Linked DNA regions of Homo sapiens. The protein of the gene in region 1 purifies or fractionates together with the protein of each later gene. This does not show direct contact. Each region holds a gene or a part of one and is shown on either strand. Other genes may lie near its edges.

What was found. Proteins that work in one complex are often made in the same cells at the same time.
Region 2: the proteins of ASB7 (region 1) and DNAAF10 purify together in Homo sapiens (affinity purification with mass spectrometry; 2 studies listed by BioGRID and IntAct, with this or other methods). This does not show direct contact.

What each region holds. Positions count from the first base shown.
Region 1 is NC_000015.10:100,605,434-100,613,320, forward strand, and holds part of ASB7 (ankyrin repeat and SOCS box protein 7), read left to right. Parts: intron 1-4,273; 5' UTR 4,274-4,395; intron 4,396-6,732; 5' UTR 6,733-6,783; coding exon 6,784-6,994; intron 6,995-7,887. UniProt on the Homo sapiens protein: Probable substrate-recognition component of a SCF-like ECS (Elongin-Cullin-SOCS-box protein) E3 ubiquitin-protein ligase complex which mediates the ubiquitination and subsequent proteasomal degradation of target proteins.
Region 2 is NC_000002.12:68,132,957-68,140,843, reverse strand, and holds part of DNAAF10 (dynein axonemal assembly factor 10), read left to right. Parts: intron 1-1,986; coding exon 1,987-2,102; intron 2,103-3,410; coding exon 3,411-3,545; intron 3,546-6,044; coding exon 6,045-6,142; coding exon of another isoform or gene 6,143-6,143; exon of another isoform or gene 6,144-6,760; intron 6,761-7,887. UniProt on the Homo sapiens protein: Key assembly factor specifically required for the stability of axonemal dynein heavy chains in cytoplasm.

The DNA of each region.
Region 1 (7,887 bases):
AATGATGCATCTTTAGTATACTGTGGCCAGTACTTACATTCTTTACACATAAAGTGATGTCATTTACAATTAGTTAATACTATGACACATACAGTATCTCTTTAATTTGTTCACGTTTAACTTTGGTGACATAGAGATACACACCATCCCTAAAAAGTCTAAAGCCAGATATGATTTATATGGGCATATCTGTTACCTGACTTTCAGCCTTCCACATCATAATCCCCTGAATGCCCTCCCTACGTAGGATGATTGTCTCCTTTCTTGCAAACTTTCTAGGAATTGACACATGAGGCTACAAAGATGGTGTTGGCAGACCTAGGTTAATAAGATAATATTGACAGGACCTCATCATTATAATACTTGTGATTTAAGCTTTGAGTTGGGTCTGGATAAGTCCAAAATTTCTTCTGTTGCTTCATCCACACTTCATGAAAATTATTGGTTTCTCTGCTGGAATTTATGTGGGTCATGGATAAGTTGTGCATGGTAATAAATCCTTATGTTATATGGAGGCCCAGTAATTTGGAGGAAATACTAATACCTTTATTTGTTTTGGATCATAACCACTATGCTATACTTTGTTGAGTGACACTAAAATAACACTTATACCTTATTTTGGGTTCCAGGCTCCTGATCATATCAGTAGAGCTTGTGAACAGGCATCTCAGCCATGTTCTCCGTTTTGGTACGGCCGTGTAGTGTTTTTCCATCCATCTTCCCTCTTAGATCTTGTGAATGTGAACCATTGAAGGATTGTTTTTTTTTTCTCAGACCCAATGTCGTCGGAGTTGCTGATTGCATTTATTTTCTTACCAGCATGTATTTTTGTTTACTTTGCAAAGAAATGCTTATTTCTTTCTTTGAGTAATAAGCCATTATCTTGTTGCTAAGTTTATGTGACATCAGAAAGCACAGTTCAGTTTGCATCACTTAATCAGAAATGTGTGGACTTTTAATGATAATAATATGCAAAAAGTCATTAATGTCTAATCATTTATGCCAAAGGAGATTTGGGAAATATGGTCAAATTTGGTGAAGGTTTTGTAACTTCGGACAGGTCTTAAGCATATTTTGTTTTATGTTTATTTTATTCTTCACGCTGTTCTATCATATAGACTTAACTATGTGAAGCAAGAAGTTTTGGGTTTAACTAAATGAACTTCACTTGGCATCTATATGGAAATTAGATGGTAATGTACTTGAATTTCTAAATTAGTAGTTTTTAATATGGTCAATAGTATTAAAGCTTGGAAGCCTAGATTCTTTTCTTTTGACCCCAAGTGGAAAAGAAAGTCTTCCTTGTTTGTTTGCTTTTTTTTTCCTTGTGACTGTGAAAGCTAGAATAAAATTTCTGAAGATCATACCCTCAGAGTATCAGTAGCTCCTGAGTCCACAAAAACATAACTAAACATACATAACTTACAAAATTACCTCCTGGCCGGGCGCGGTGGCTCACACCTGTAATCCTAGCACTTTGGGAGGCCGAGGCGGGCGGATCACAAGGTCAAGAGATCGAGATCATCCTGACTAACATGGTGAAACCTCGTCTCTACTAAAAATACATGAATTAGCCGGGTGTGGTGGCACGCTCCTGTAGTCCCAGCTACTTAGGAGGCTGAGGCAGGAGAATCGCTTGAACCCTGAAGGCAGAGGTTGCAGTGAGCCGAGATCGCACCACTGCACTCCAGCCTGGCAATAGAGCGAGCCTCCGTCTCAAAAAAAAAAAAAAGAAAATTACTTCCTTTGCTATATTCCTTTTCTTTTTATAGGTGACTTCCATGAGCTATCAGTTTTTTAATAAACTCCCTGAGGGAAAATAGGCTTTCTTCCATTCTCATCTCTGGACTTCCTCTGTTGTTTTTTAATAGACATATTTACCACTAGATATTGTGTTTGCTTTTCAGCTCCATAGTCTTTTCTTCATTTATACACGTGACTCGACTCTGTCAGGCGCAGCTCTCATAAAGTAACACCAGGAGGAAATTACTTGTTGATGCTTTTGACTATTTGGGGGTCTTTTGTAATAAATTATTTTCTGTCGTAATTCAAAGCAGTGTAGCTGACAGGGATCATGTGTGCATGACGTGTGTGTATGTTTTTTTCTGGTAAACGTTGATGCACTAGTACATGCAGGGAGTACTTTTTTGGTTTAAACCTGTGGTTATTGTTTATAGCACTTGGTATTTTCAGAAAAGAGAAAAATAATCTTAAAATGTCTGGGATTTTAAAAAATTCATTTTAAGTATGCAGAACTCTATTGGAATACCACCTGGAGGTGCTACCTGTGGCCAAACCCTATCACTGTGCCACGTTAAGTGTCAAGCATTCTGTAGACATTTGTTTGTTTGACTGAAGGAGCTCATATGGAATTAGCACAAGTTGCTACCACCTGTGAATCTTTCTTGTTGGGAGAAATAGTTTGGCCACTTCATCTTTTACCACCAGGCCTTTTCTTGATATTGTTAATAAATTAACACCATTTCCTATTCTGCTCAGCTCTCATGCCGTCTTCCCTGACACTTCCAGCTGCCTCCATGGAAGTGGCGGTGGATAGTTGGAAGCCAGCAACAACCACAAGGATTCTTCAGGCTTGAAGCTATGTTGGGTCATGTTTACTTCTTATGGGAAGTAAGGGGTGCTGAGGACACACTTGGAAGTGAGATGTCCAGTGATGTTCACTCTTGAAATGTAGATGTAGCTCGTGAAAAGTGGTGGCATATTCATTTGTGGCAATGTGTGAGGCTCATCACTGGGGACACTGATTTGCATTTTAAAATAAACTTTATTGTAGGAAAGCTTTGGATTTACAGAACAATTACTGAGGCTGTGCAGAGTTCCTACATGCTCGATACTCAGTTTCTCCTACTAACATCTTATATTAACATGTTTGTCACCACCTTGAGGAGAGACTACCTATACAAATTATTTGGAATTCTGAACAACAGATGTGTTTCTCCCCCTTTATTTATCGAATCAGTTATTTGTATCAATGTGAACTCTTGATATCCACTTTGTACTTTGTCATCTGGTACTGTTTTAAGTATTGCTGCAGTTATTCCCTCTTTGGCTATTGAGGGATCTTTCAGTTGGCTCCTGTGTCCCTTTGACCTCCCCCACCGTGGTGTCTTTCTTTGAGCACCTCCTTGCTTTCTGGCACCGTGTGATGTTCCAGTCTTAGAATCGGCCATTTGTATAAGGATCGCTTTGCATGTTTCACAGCTTGCTTTGTAGGAGTTGTTCTGATCTCGTCGGCCTCATTTATTTAGAAATAATAATAGAATTTTAAAACAAATTTTATTTCCAAGGGCAAGTTGGCAAACTCTTTACCTTCCTTGAAGAGGTTTGTCAAGGAAAAGTAGATGAGAATAGAGGAAAAGAGAGAAGTGGACTATACCAATTTGGATTGGTTGAAAATTCTGGTGTGCAGCCAGCAGGACATACAACTGCTGCGGGCCAGGTTGCTAAGTGGCCCGACCTTTTCTTGTCTGAAGGTTTAAGTGATGCTCACCCACCGTCAGGGGATGAGGTAGTAGTTCTCCCAATATGTAATTCCTAGAGTTTTATGTGGAAGTCACTTTGTGTCCTTAACTTTGTTGGAATTAACAGAGCTGGAATTTAATTGACACGAAGAAAGATCCCTTTTCTTTTAGTTGTGGAGAGAGTTTATTCAGAATTCACATGGGGAACCTGGCAAGGCTGTTGTTAATGTTTTATCTAGTTCGGTGTATGCATAAAGGAATAACAATTTCAAAGTGATTGACTTGATGCCTTTAGGGCACATGAAGAAAATGCATTTAAAGACACAGTCTCCTTTTAGTTGTCATAGATTTTATTTTAACCCAGGCCACCTATTATATTTCATGCACACGTATTCTCATTTAAGTCCTGTTTAGAAAGTGCAGGTGACTTATGGTGTCGGTTAAAAAGTAATTCAGATAAAGCAAGTCTGAAACTGTATTCTCAATAGAGGAAAATGAAGAATCTATGCTTGCATCCAAATTCCAAATATGTGATTTATTATTTTTTTTATTTGCTCTTTCTCAAATAGCTGCATTTTGGGGGGAAAAGCCTGAAACTAAATAGTATTTATTGGAGATGAACATATGTAACAAGATTATTTTCTGTAAGAGTTGATCTGAGTTCTTTCTCTGCTCTATAGATTTATTGTAAAGCACTGAAGTTTACATTCATCAAAAGGTAGACTATGCAGACAGCTATGATTATTATTTTAAGGAATTTTCCTATGATTGTTATTTTTATTTGTTTCTAGGTTAAGAAGGCTTTTTTGCTCTGTAGCCTGGACGTACTTTGAAGCCCCTCCCCACGATGCTGTACGTGCACAATGGTTACTAGGCAATCCGTACATCAGGAGAAGGGACACTCTTCCATAAGGCAAGTTGCCTCAGGGTCATTGGTCATCTGTGTTGTTCCGGGGGAAAGCTCACTTAACTTTTACTTCTCTCTTAAATCAGTTAATGTATACTAAATACACCACTCACTAAAGAAAACCCAGGTTTGTTTTGATATTGTTTCAGTCTTTTTCTTGCATGGTAGGCCTCGTTTAAGTGCCAACATAATCACTTAATTAAAAAGAAAAGCTGTTAAGGATGATTGTGAGCATAGTATGTTTCCATTAATTCCTTCAGACGGTCTTCAGCATTTTCTCTCATAACAGAATAAGCAAAAACCTATTCTGAAAGGATTCTCATTTTAAAATTTCTAAGAAGGGACAATTTTTGTGAAGGAATTGAGAGAAGAAATAAGAGGCAATCTTGTGGCCGGGCGCAGTGGCTCACGCCTGTAATCCTAGCACTTTGGGAGGCCGAGGCTGGTGGATCACGAGGTCAGGAGATCGAGACCATCCTGGCTAACACGGTGAAACCCCGTCTCTACTAAAAATACAAAAAAATTAGCCGGGCGTGGTGGCAGGCGCCTGTAGTCCCAGCTACTTGGGAGGCTGAGGCAGGAGAAAGGTGTGAACCCGGGAGGTGGAGGTTGCAGTGAGCTCAGATCGCGCCACTGCACTCCAACCTGGGTGACAGAGCAAGACTCCGTCTCAAAAAAAAAAAAGAGGCAATCTTGTTTATTCCCATATTTCTCTGAGGAAATAGCTATTTGTAGAAGTAGCTTGATATTTTTAAATTTGAGCACTTAGTTGTGATACTTAGGAGTAGGTAATGACACCATTTTCTATGTATAAAACAACATAGGATATTTGTATTCTTAAGTTGTAATGATTTGACTTAACCTAGGCCTAAGTTTACTTTTGTACAGTCTATAGTAAGTTTTGCAAGATAAACGATTGTTGGTAGCAAGATTATCCTGATATGTCTAACCTACATATGAGAACAGAAATGTCTTTAAAGGGCTTCATCACAGTTTAAAAAATGTTTAGAAACAAAGGGACTACTAGTTAAGAGATGAGTCTAATCTATTCCTTCCAGTTAGCACACCTGGAGTGGCTTTCTGGAAGCTTGTTAGTTTTCTGTATGTAGTTAAAAGCTTAAAAACACACTAAAAATGTTTTTGTATACACACATGTAAGATGCAACTTTTTACCATTTCACTTTGGACTGTTACTGTTTCCATGAAGGAGGTCTCATTTTACTTTCTTATTTTAATTTTTGAGACAGGGTCTTGCTCTGTATCCCAGGCTGGAGTGCAGTGGCACAATCACAGCTCACTGCAGCCTCAACCTCCCAAGCTCAAGTGATCCTCCTGCTTCTACCTGCCGAGTAGCTGGGACTACAGGTGCACACTACCATGCCTGGCTAATTTTTTAATTTTGTATTTTTTTGTAGAGACAGGGTCTCACTGTGTTGTCCAGGTTGGTCTTGAACTCCTGGGCTCAAGTGGTCCCTTTTTCCTTGGCCTCCCAAAGTGCTGGGATTACAAACGTGAGCCACTGTGCCTGGCCAGATATTTCATTGTATGTTGGGTTTTAGTACAGTCCTTTTTTGTGACCTATTAGAGAGTATGAGAATTCACTGTACTACTTTTCCTTTTAGTAATTTGATCATGTGGTTAATCACCAGATTGTTTCGATTCTTTTTTTTTTTTTGAGACAGAATTTCACTCTCTTGCCCAGGCTGGAGTGCAGTGGCGCAATCTCAGCTCAATGAAACCTCCACCTCCCGGGTTCAAGCAATTCTTGTGCCTCAGCCACCCAAATAGCTGGGATTACAGACATGTGCCACCACACCCGGCTAATTTTTGTATTTTTGGTAGAGACAGGGTTTCACTATGTTGGCCAGGCTGGTCTCAAACTCCTGGCCTCAAGTGATCTGCCTGCCTTGGCCTCCCAAAGTGCTAAGACTGTAGGCGTGAGCCACTGTGCTTGGCCTGATTGTTTAGATTCTTAAGGTTTTAAAATATATTGCTACTTTTTTTTTTTTTTTTTTGAGATGGGGTCTTGCCCTGTGGTCCAGGCTGGAGTGCAGTGTTGCTATCATGGCTCACTGCCGCTTTGATCTCCTGGGTTCAGGTCGTCCTCCCACCTCAGCCTCCCAAGTAGCTGGGACTGATCCCCTGGGCTCAGGTGATCCTCCCACCTCAGCCTCCTGAGTTGCTGGGACTATAGGCTTGCACCACCACACCCAGCTAGTAGTATGCACTGTCATTAGTAAGGTTTACTGATGTAGCAAATGGAATGTTCTGTGATATTTAATAGATGCAGTATCAGGAACCAGTTATTCTAAATTTTACCTTTTCTACCTTCTCTTCTTAAAGGCTGATCCCCGTAACCTAATGAATCCTTTGTAAAAAGTGGACTCAGCTAGGATGTTACACCATCATTGTCGAAGGAACCCTGAGCTCCAGGAAGAGTTGCAGATTCAGGCCGCGGTGGCTGCTGGGGATGTCCACACAGTGCGAAAGATGCTAGAACAAGGCTATTCCCCGAATGGCCGAGATGCGAATGGCTGGACTCTGCTTCATTTCTCTGCAGCAAGAGGAAAGGAAAGATGTGTTCGGGTTTTTCTAGAACACGGAGGTGAGTTTTGTAGAAGCAAATCTTTTTCCCCATGGAGAAACATAAATGATGTTTAGTTTAAAATGTGTCTATTTGTAATTTTTAATGCTTCTCTTCTGTTAATACTCAACATATTATTCTCTCTCCTTTGTGAAGATTTGCTATAAGTGTGCCTTTTTGTTTAAAACCAGATTGTTTAAAAGATCAGTTTTATGAATGGATTCTTTTCCCTGAAACTGTAGTGTCTGTACAGCCAGGTTTGCCCAGGTTATTTCAGCTAAGCTACCTTTCTTCAGGTTGTCCAGCTGCTTTTGTTTCAGAAGCAGAAGTGGCTGTGGTATGCCCATAATTAGAGAATTGCACAAGTTTCCCCTGTTGATTATTGCTTAAGCGTATAGACCGAGCACCAGTCCTTTAAACATCATGGCCTAATGATACCCTATCCTTATCTTTTTGTTTCAGATGCTTTCCTTTGTTATTTTAGAGCACTTGTTTTTTCCAGAAACTGTACATAGTTTGTAGGTATACTATAAGAAGATTGGTTATCTGAGATCTAATTTTGTATAAATATGTGCAATTGGAAACTATATTTGACATATTAATGTTTTTGCTTTGAAAAACTGTTCATTCCCATGGTTTTTAAACCAATGATTGTCCAAAACTACTTTCTCCAGTTGAATTTCAGCCTACTTTATTTTCCTAGAGATGGGTTTTTTATATATTTGATCATGTATACCCACATTATCTCTGTAAATTATGGTTGAAAGCAGCTTGGTTGGGGACTCAAATTACATACATGCCATTCTAGGGCTTTAATTGCTCATTAGAAGTGATTTAGTTTCCTTCCTAAGGTGCACTTTGTTACAAAACTAGCCAAACTTCCTTGCATTTTGAGGTGCAGAAAAATGTTGGAA
Region 2 (7,887 bases), on another chromosome or scaffold:
AATTTTTTTCCAAATATTTTCGATCCATTGTTGGTTGCCTATAGATGCAGAACCCATGGATAGGGAGGGCCAACGGTAGAAGAGAGTAATAGTAGGAATATCCTTAGAGATGGCTCAGGACAATGGCCAGAGGTGTTAGGACGGCCTGAAGATAGTTCTAAGTTTTTGATGGTGTTTGCAAGGAAGAGATGAAATCCGAGCTTTAGGAAAATGAACTAGTGGTATTTAGCGGGAGTGATGAGTGGTACAGAGAATATGAGTTCAAGAGCTCTTTGCAGTATTCCAGGGAAGACCTAAGTTACAAGCACTGAGAAGGGAGCAGAGTGGATGATTCAGAAGATAATATTATGCAGAATACATAGAATTTGGGAATGTTTTTGGATATGAAGAACAAAGAAAAGGATAATGTCCAAGATGACTGAGTTTTCAGGCTGATTGTGGGGTGAATGATGGTATTAATTGAAAAAATTATACAAGGGGTGGGATAATTTGTAAAGGAAAATGGTAAGGTCATTTTGGGACATCATGAGTTTAAGATGATGGTGTACCATCTAGGTGGGGCCCACAGTGGAAATGCAGGGCTGGAGTTTATGAGAAAAACGAAGTTAGGGGCAATGAAAGCATTGGGATAGGATGCCCAGATAGCATAGCACAGTGACAGGGGCCTCCTTCTCACTTAACACTCTTTCCTCAGCAAGAGATACTTGGAAAAAAATCCTTGAATTAATTCCAGGAGGATGAGTTTAACCACAGATTATAAACTTACTTCAGGTATGATCATCCACACTACTAAAAATATGTCACAGTGTGCTACAACTTATTTCAGATTTCCTTGTAAAGATGGAATCACACCAGAGCAACATTTTTCAAGATAAATTAGTTTTAAAGTTTCTGTTTGCATTCAAATATAGTTACTGCCAAGAAAGCAATAGAGGTATAACTGTATTTATTCTCTGAGACCCCTTTGTGTTTGAGCTGTAGTTGGCCTGCTAGCCTTTGCAGATATAGTAGAAAGCATTTTCTTTTCTTTTTTTTTTTTTGAGACAGAGTCTCGCTTTGTTGCCCAGGCTGGAGTGCATTGGCGCGATCTTGGTTCACTGCAAGCTCTGCCTCCCAGGTTCATGCCATTCTCCTGCCTCAGCCTCCCGAGTAGCTGGGACTACAGGCGCCTGCCACCACACCCGGCTAATTTTTTGTATTTTTTTCTTTTTTTTTTTTTTTTAGTAGAGACAGGGTTTCACTGTGTTAGCCAGGATGGTCTCGATCTCCTATAAAGCATTTTATTTAAATTGAATTCAATAAACACTTTCACATATCCTTTCAGTATGGAATTACAGTGAATGAGCTTATATTAGTTAGTCTGCTTTGCATTGAATTGCTTTATTGCTATAAAGGAATACCTGAGACTGGGTAGTTTATAAAGAAAAGAGTTTTATTTGGCTCATGATTCTGCAAGAGTATCCAAGAAGCATGGTGCCAGTATCTGCTCCTGGTGAGACCTCAGGAATTGTCTGCTCATGGCAGAAGGCAAAAGGGGAGCAGGCATGTCACATGGCGAGAGAGGGAGCAAGAGAGAGGGGAGGAGGGAGGTGCCAGACTCTTTAACAACCAGACCTCACATGAACTAGAAGAGCGAAAACTCATTACCATAAGGACTGCACTGAGCCATTCACGAGGGATCCAGCCCCATGACCCAGCACCTCCCATCAGGCCCCACCTCCGACATTGGGGATCATACGTCAACATCAGATTTGGGGGGACAAATATCCAAACTCTTATCAGAAATTTAAACAAAACAAAAAACTAATGGATACCACATTAATAATCTTGATGTCCTCTCAGGATTGGTAAGATGGGATACTACCCAGTGTGATTTTTAAGATCTGATTTAATATAAGTTTTATGTTAGTTTCATAAGACTTTTTTAAAGCAGCCTTTATAAGGATGCATTTATAAGGATGTGAAATGTTGTATCTTGATTTCCAGGCAATGCTTATAATCAAGAAGAACGTGTTGTTTGTGCTGGCTATGACAATGGGGATATCAAACTATTTGATCTCAGAAATATGGCATTACGGTGGGAGACAAACATCAAAAATGGGGTAAAGTACATTCTGAGGCTTTTTGGTTTCTCTGAGCATGTTTCCATTCACCTCTGAACTATTACAAAAGGAAAACACCTCTAGTAACTCATCTGAGTCAACCCCTCTGCCAACGGTTCTTAACTTTTTGAGGCCAAATCCGTTTGAGAATCTAATGAAAATCCTGGATCCTCTCTTCAGAAAATGAGCTCACACCCACATGTGGTTTGCACAGCGTTGGGGGAGTCACCAGCCCCTTCAGCCTGTCTGCAGACCCCTGTGGGCCATGTAGTAAGATTTCAAAATAAGCAAGTAAAAGGTCTTTTTATGCCAATATCAGAAAGCCTGAAACAGTAGTCACCTCCCCAGCTCAGATTTTTGGTTCCTTAGTTGTGCACCTTTAGCAAAGAATGTGGTTTCCTCCTGTTTTCTACTGTTAGCCTTTACTTAACTGTTAAATAATGTAAAAAGTTAAATAATGATTCCCCAAAGGCATTCACTGAGCATGGGAACCCAAGATTGTTTTGTTGATCTTACTAATGGAAAAAAAAAATGGGTTTTTTGTTTGTTTGTTTGTTTGTTTGTTTTGAGATGGAGTCTTGCTCTGTCGCCCAGGCTGGAGTGCAGTGGCGCGATGTTGGCTCACTGCAAGCTCTGCCTCCCAGGTTCATGCCATTCTCCTGCCTCAGCCTCCCGAGTAACTGGGACTACAGGCGCCTGTCACCATGCCCGGCTAATTTTTCATATTTTTTAGTAGAGACGGGGTTTCATCGTGTTAGCCAGGATGGTCTCAATCTCCTGACCTCATGATCTGCCTGCCTTGGCCTCCCAAAGTGCTGGGATTACAGGCGTGAGCCACTGTGCCTGGCCAAAAAAAAAAAAAATGTTTTTTTTTTGAGACAGAGTCTCACTCTGTCGCCCAGGATGGAGTGCAGTGGCATGATCTTAGCTCACTGCAACCTCTGCCTCCCGGGTTCAAGCAATTCTCCTGCCTCAGCCTCCCAAGTAGCTGGGACTACAGGCGCACGCCACCACGCCTGGCTAATTTTTGTATTTTTAGTAGAGACAGGGTTTCACCATGTAGGTCAGGCTGGTCTTGATCTCCTGACTTCGTGATCCACCTGCCTTGGCCTCCCAAAGTGCTGGGATTACAGGCATAAGCCACCGCGCCTGGCTGGAAAAAAATTTTTATGGGAAAAGTTAAAAGATAAATGATTGTTGGAGTGCTTTCACATTATCTGACCATTTTAAAGCTGTTTTACTTAGTATAAAAGAGCCTCCTGAGTAATACTGGTGAGACTACCAATAATAAGTATTCTCTGTTTTCAGGTGTGTAGCTTGGAGTTTGACAGAAAAGACATAAGTATGAATAAGTTAGTAGCCACATCTCTGGAAGGAAAGTTCCATGTTTTTGACATGAGAACACAGCATCCAACCAAAGGTTTTGCCTCTGTTTCAGAAAAGGTAAATATGAGGGAAATGTCTTTCTATGAAGAAGAATGATAGCTTGGTTTAGACTGATAAGTAGAATTAGTCACCAAGGTTTCTTCCAGGTCTTTATGTGAAGGGAGCTATTTTTGATATATTCCTGTGAGATCTTGACAAGTTTTTCTGTGCAAAGAGTACTTCCCCAAAGTTTATCAACTTTAGACTTCTTGATTATAATAAAGATCTCAGGTAGGAATCTTATTTTGTAGTTTAGGAGCAATTAGAAGAAACCTAGCTGATATTAGGAATTTGATCAACAAAACCCAGCCTGGTGTTTCCTAATAAGTATATAATATTTGTGCTAATACCTGGTTATATATTTTTCAAAATAAACTATATGTACATGATGTCATTTCATTACACTTTGTTTTATATTCCAGTTTGCTATATTAAATGAAATTATTTGAATCACTGAGTACTGTGATTATAGTAAATGTTCAAAAATATTTACTTACTTAACTTTGCCTTGCATTTGAGGTAGCTGAGAGGGAAATGCGGTATTATGGCGTTAGACCAATAGATGAGGAAAGCAGGGCAAAGGGAAAATACTGGTTTAAAAAAAAGATAGTTTCTGGACTGGGGGGATTACAGAAAATTCATGCAGAAAGGTCCTGTCATTCACAAGAAATGGATTGGAAATGTGATTTGAACTTCCTCAAGTATAAAAAGAAAGAAAGATCAGTTACAGATTCCTTGTTTCCATAAGATTAAAATATACAAGTTGCTCAGGAAGTGAGAACTTACTCCGTTGCTTCTCTCTCTCCTGTGGATTCAGTAGGATTTCTTGAACCTTTCTATTTTGTCTCATTATTATTATTGTGTGTAAATTATTGTCACTTCCTTATGAAAACCAAATTCTTAACAAGATAGCTATAAATTATAATATTGGTTTGCTTTTGTCATTTCAGAATATATTAAGTATCTATCAACAACATAAATCACTTTACTAAACTGTTCCATGTATAATTTGCAACACATATTTCATTATCTATACATAATAGTGTCATCTCTGGTTTTTTGTTTTGTTTGTTTGGCTTTTTTTTTTTTTTTTTTTCTGGAGACAGAATCTTGCCCTCTTACCCAGGCTGGTGTGCAGTGGCATGATTATGGCTCACTGCAGTCTCAAACTCCTGGGCTCAAGTGATCCTCCTGCCTCAGCCTCCCAAGTAGCTGGGAGTACAGGCACACGCCACCATATCTGGCTAATTAGATTTTTTTTTTTTCATAGAGTCAGAGTCTTGCTGTGTTGCCCAGTCTGGACTTGAAACCTGACCTCAAGTGATCCTCCTGCCTCAGCCTCCCAAAGTGCTGGGATTATGGGCGTGAGCCACTATACCTGGCCCAGTTTTTTAAAATTATATTTAGTTAATCCAGTAATTGCTAAATCTGCCAAATAGAAGACTCTGGTGTATTTTAAGAGGTCATTTCCCCTCTTGCTTTTTGTGTTTTTCTCAACTTCCTGAAGAAGAAGAGAAGTTTAAGCTACAAAATAAAATGTTTCGACAGCTTGAACCTAATCACTGAGAGACTGTTACACACTCAAAATGTGTGTTTTGAGATATGAGTCTTTATCTGCTAATGGTAATTCTCTCAAAAGACTATTGAAATCAAAGGTCAAGACTAATCACTCACTAAAATGTGGTGTACCACGATAGCCAGCCCCACTGCTTCTACAAAGCAGCAGTCATTCATTCCCTCCCGCCTCCTTTCTCTCTCTCCCTCTGTCTCTCTCTCTCTCCTAAGTTCCCCCCAGTTAATGCAGTGGCGCCGGGATGGATTTACTGGCTGCTTTTGAGGTGCTAACAACCTGTTAACCTTCCAGTTGCTGGTTTTTAATCTTTTAGTCTAATGTGAATGATAAAGACCTTAGCTTATTATGACCATAAACATTGTCTGTAAGTCCTCATGGTCCTTATTTTGAAGACTGGACAGGTAAATGGCAATAAATTGAAAATAAGGCTCTGGGAGCTGTTAGTTAAATTTCGGTCTATAAATTTTAGTTAAAATTCAGTCTATGTACTTATTGCTGAGTTTTGCTGTGAACCTCAAACTGCTCTCAGAACTAAAGTGTATTTTTTTAATTCAGTCCACATTTTTCGTATATATAAACAAAAGTATATGTTTTTATATTTTGAGTGTTTTCCCCCTCAGAATGAACTAGAGGTATTTAAATATGTAAAATCTATTTTCATAAGTATTTGATACTATAAACTTAAATGGATTTTAATACCTGTCTTTTTAAAAATCCAGTAGAACTTTGTTTCATAAAGCAATAAAGAAAAATGATGCTTTTTCTAATTTCTTATGTGTTCCTATAAATCTCTATAGCCATTATAAAGAGATGTGCCAGAAAATAACCTTAATTACTTTTATAACCATTGAAATTATAGTTGTAAGAGTTTTTTATTTGCAGCGTTTCTCTTCCAGGGCACCATTTAGCATATAAACCAGTTGTATGCCTCTTGTTCTATTTAGGCTCATAAATCTACTGTGTGGCAGGTCCGACACCTGCCGCAGAACAGGGAGCTCTTTCTGACAGCTGGAGGCGCCGGCGGCCTTCACCTCTGGAAGTAGTAAGTCTGCCAGTGCACACTGCTCCTTTTAAAGTTACCTGTGGGTGTAAAGTAGGATTAGATTGAACTTTTTTTTCTTTTTTTTCCTGCTTTGACTTAGTTCATTTTGATATGATTTAAAATTTCATGGTGTTACATAACTTGTTTTCTAAGCATTTTGTATGAATATACTTTACACTTAGTAGAGTGTACACTAATCTTCTTTTGATACATTTTAGTATATCATTTTAGTTGTGTCTTCTAAGTATGAAAAAGTTGGCCCAAGACTTTTATCAGATACTATCTTGAAGTGATTAGAACACTCACTGCCTCTAAAAGATGGGGAAAGGGTTCCTTGCCTAAATTTAGATAACATCATTGTGATAGACCCCAACAGAGCCTGAGGCTGCTGATTGGTCTCCAGGAAAGATCTTATCACTGAATTTGCTTTCTGCATATCTAGGCAGGGTGAGTTACAATGAAAGCTTTTACTATGCACACCACTTTCTGAATCCCAAGGGCGCTAACATCACAGATACTAGATCATTTAAAAGGTCTGATATCATTGCTCAGGGTTGGCCTGTGAAAAGGAAACAAAACAAAACAAAACAAAAATTAAAGGTCTGATAAAAATTGTGAGTTAATGGTATTTCTGAATACTTTATTAGCTAAGCAATATGTACTTGGAGGGGAAAAATTATATCTTTCTTAAACATCACTCAGGGAAAAAACAGCAAGCCCATAAATGAAGGATATTTCAAAAATAAAGTTTCATTAATAATGTAAGAAGAAAAACACCATCCTCAATATATCTGGGACTTTCACATTTATAAAATTCTTCTCTATTAGCTCCTTTGAGAAGCTGGAAGGGGTTCTGAAAAACAGGGCTACAGTTGGAAAGTACTTGTTAAAGTACTGTGTGCAGGGATACCGCTGACAAAAAGCAGATCGAATGCTTTATCTTATATTTTCTGACAAAGTCTTGCTCTGTCACCCAGGCTGGAGTGCAGTGGCATGATCTCGTCTCACCGCAGACTCCACCTCCAGGTTCAAGGGGTTCTCCTGCCTCAGCCTCCCGAGTAACTAGGATTACAGGTGCCCGCCACGACGCCTGGCTAATTTTTGTATTTTTAGTAGAGACGGGGTTTCACCATGTTGGCCAGGCTGATCTCGAACTCCTGACCTCAGGTGATTCACCTGCCTCGGCCTCCCACAGTATTGGAATTATGGGTGTGAGCCACTGCACCCAGCCAGAGTGAACACTTTAGATCGAAGCAGTATGATTATGGCAAAACCGGGTCTCTACTAAAAATACAAGAACTAGCCGGGCGTGGTGGCACACGTCCCAGCTACTTAGGAGGCTGAGGCACGAGAATTGCCTGAATCTGGGAGGTGGAGGTCTCAGTGAGTCGAGATCGCACCACTGCACTCCAACCTGGGTGACAGAGTGAGACAGAGCGACAGAGACTTTTTCTGTCTCAACAAACAAACAAACAAACAAACAACCAATATGGTTTCTGAGTGAAAAGCAGAGGAAAAGTTTGAGTCGTTCTGGGAGAATGTGGGGTAGAGAGATCACTTGCTACTTTCCCTTCTTCTAGCACCTCTGCCTGTTGTTCTTCCCTGATTCTTCCATCCCGGTCTCCTCCCCACGTTAGACTCTGCCAGTCCCCTTAGTGAAGCCATGTGGTGGCACATCACTATTTTACTTGGTGACCAAACTCTTTAGGCTGCTCGCTTGAAGAACTAGTCCCAGTTTTCTTTGT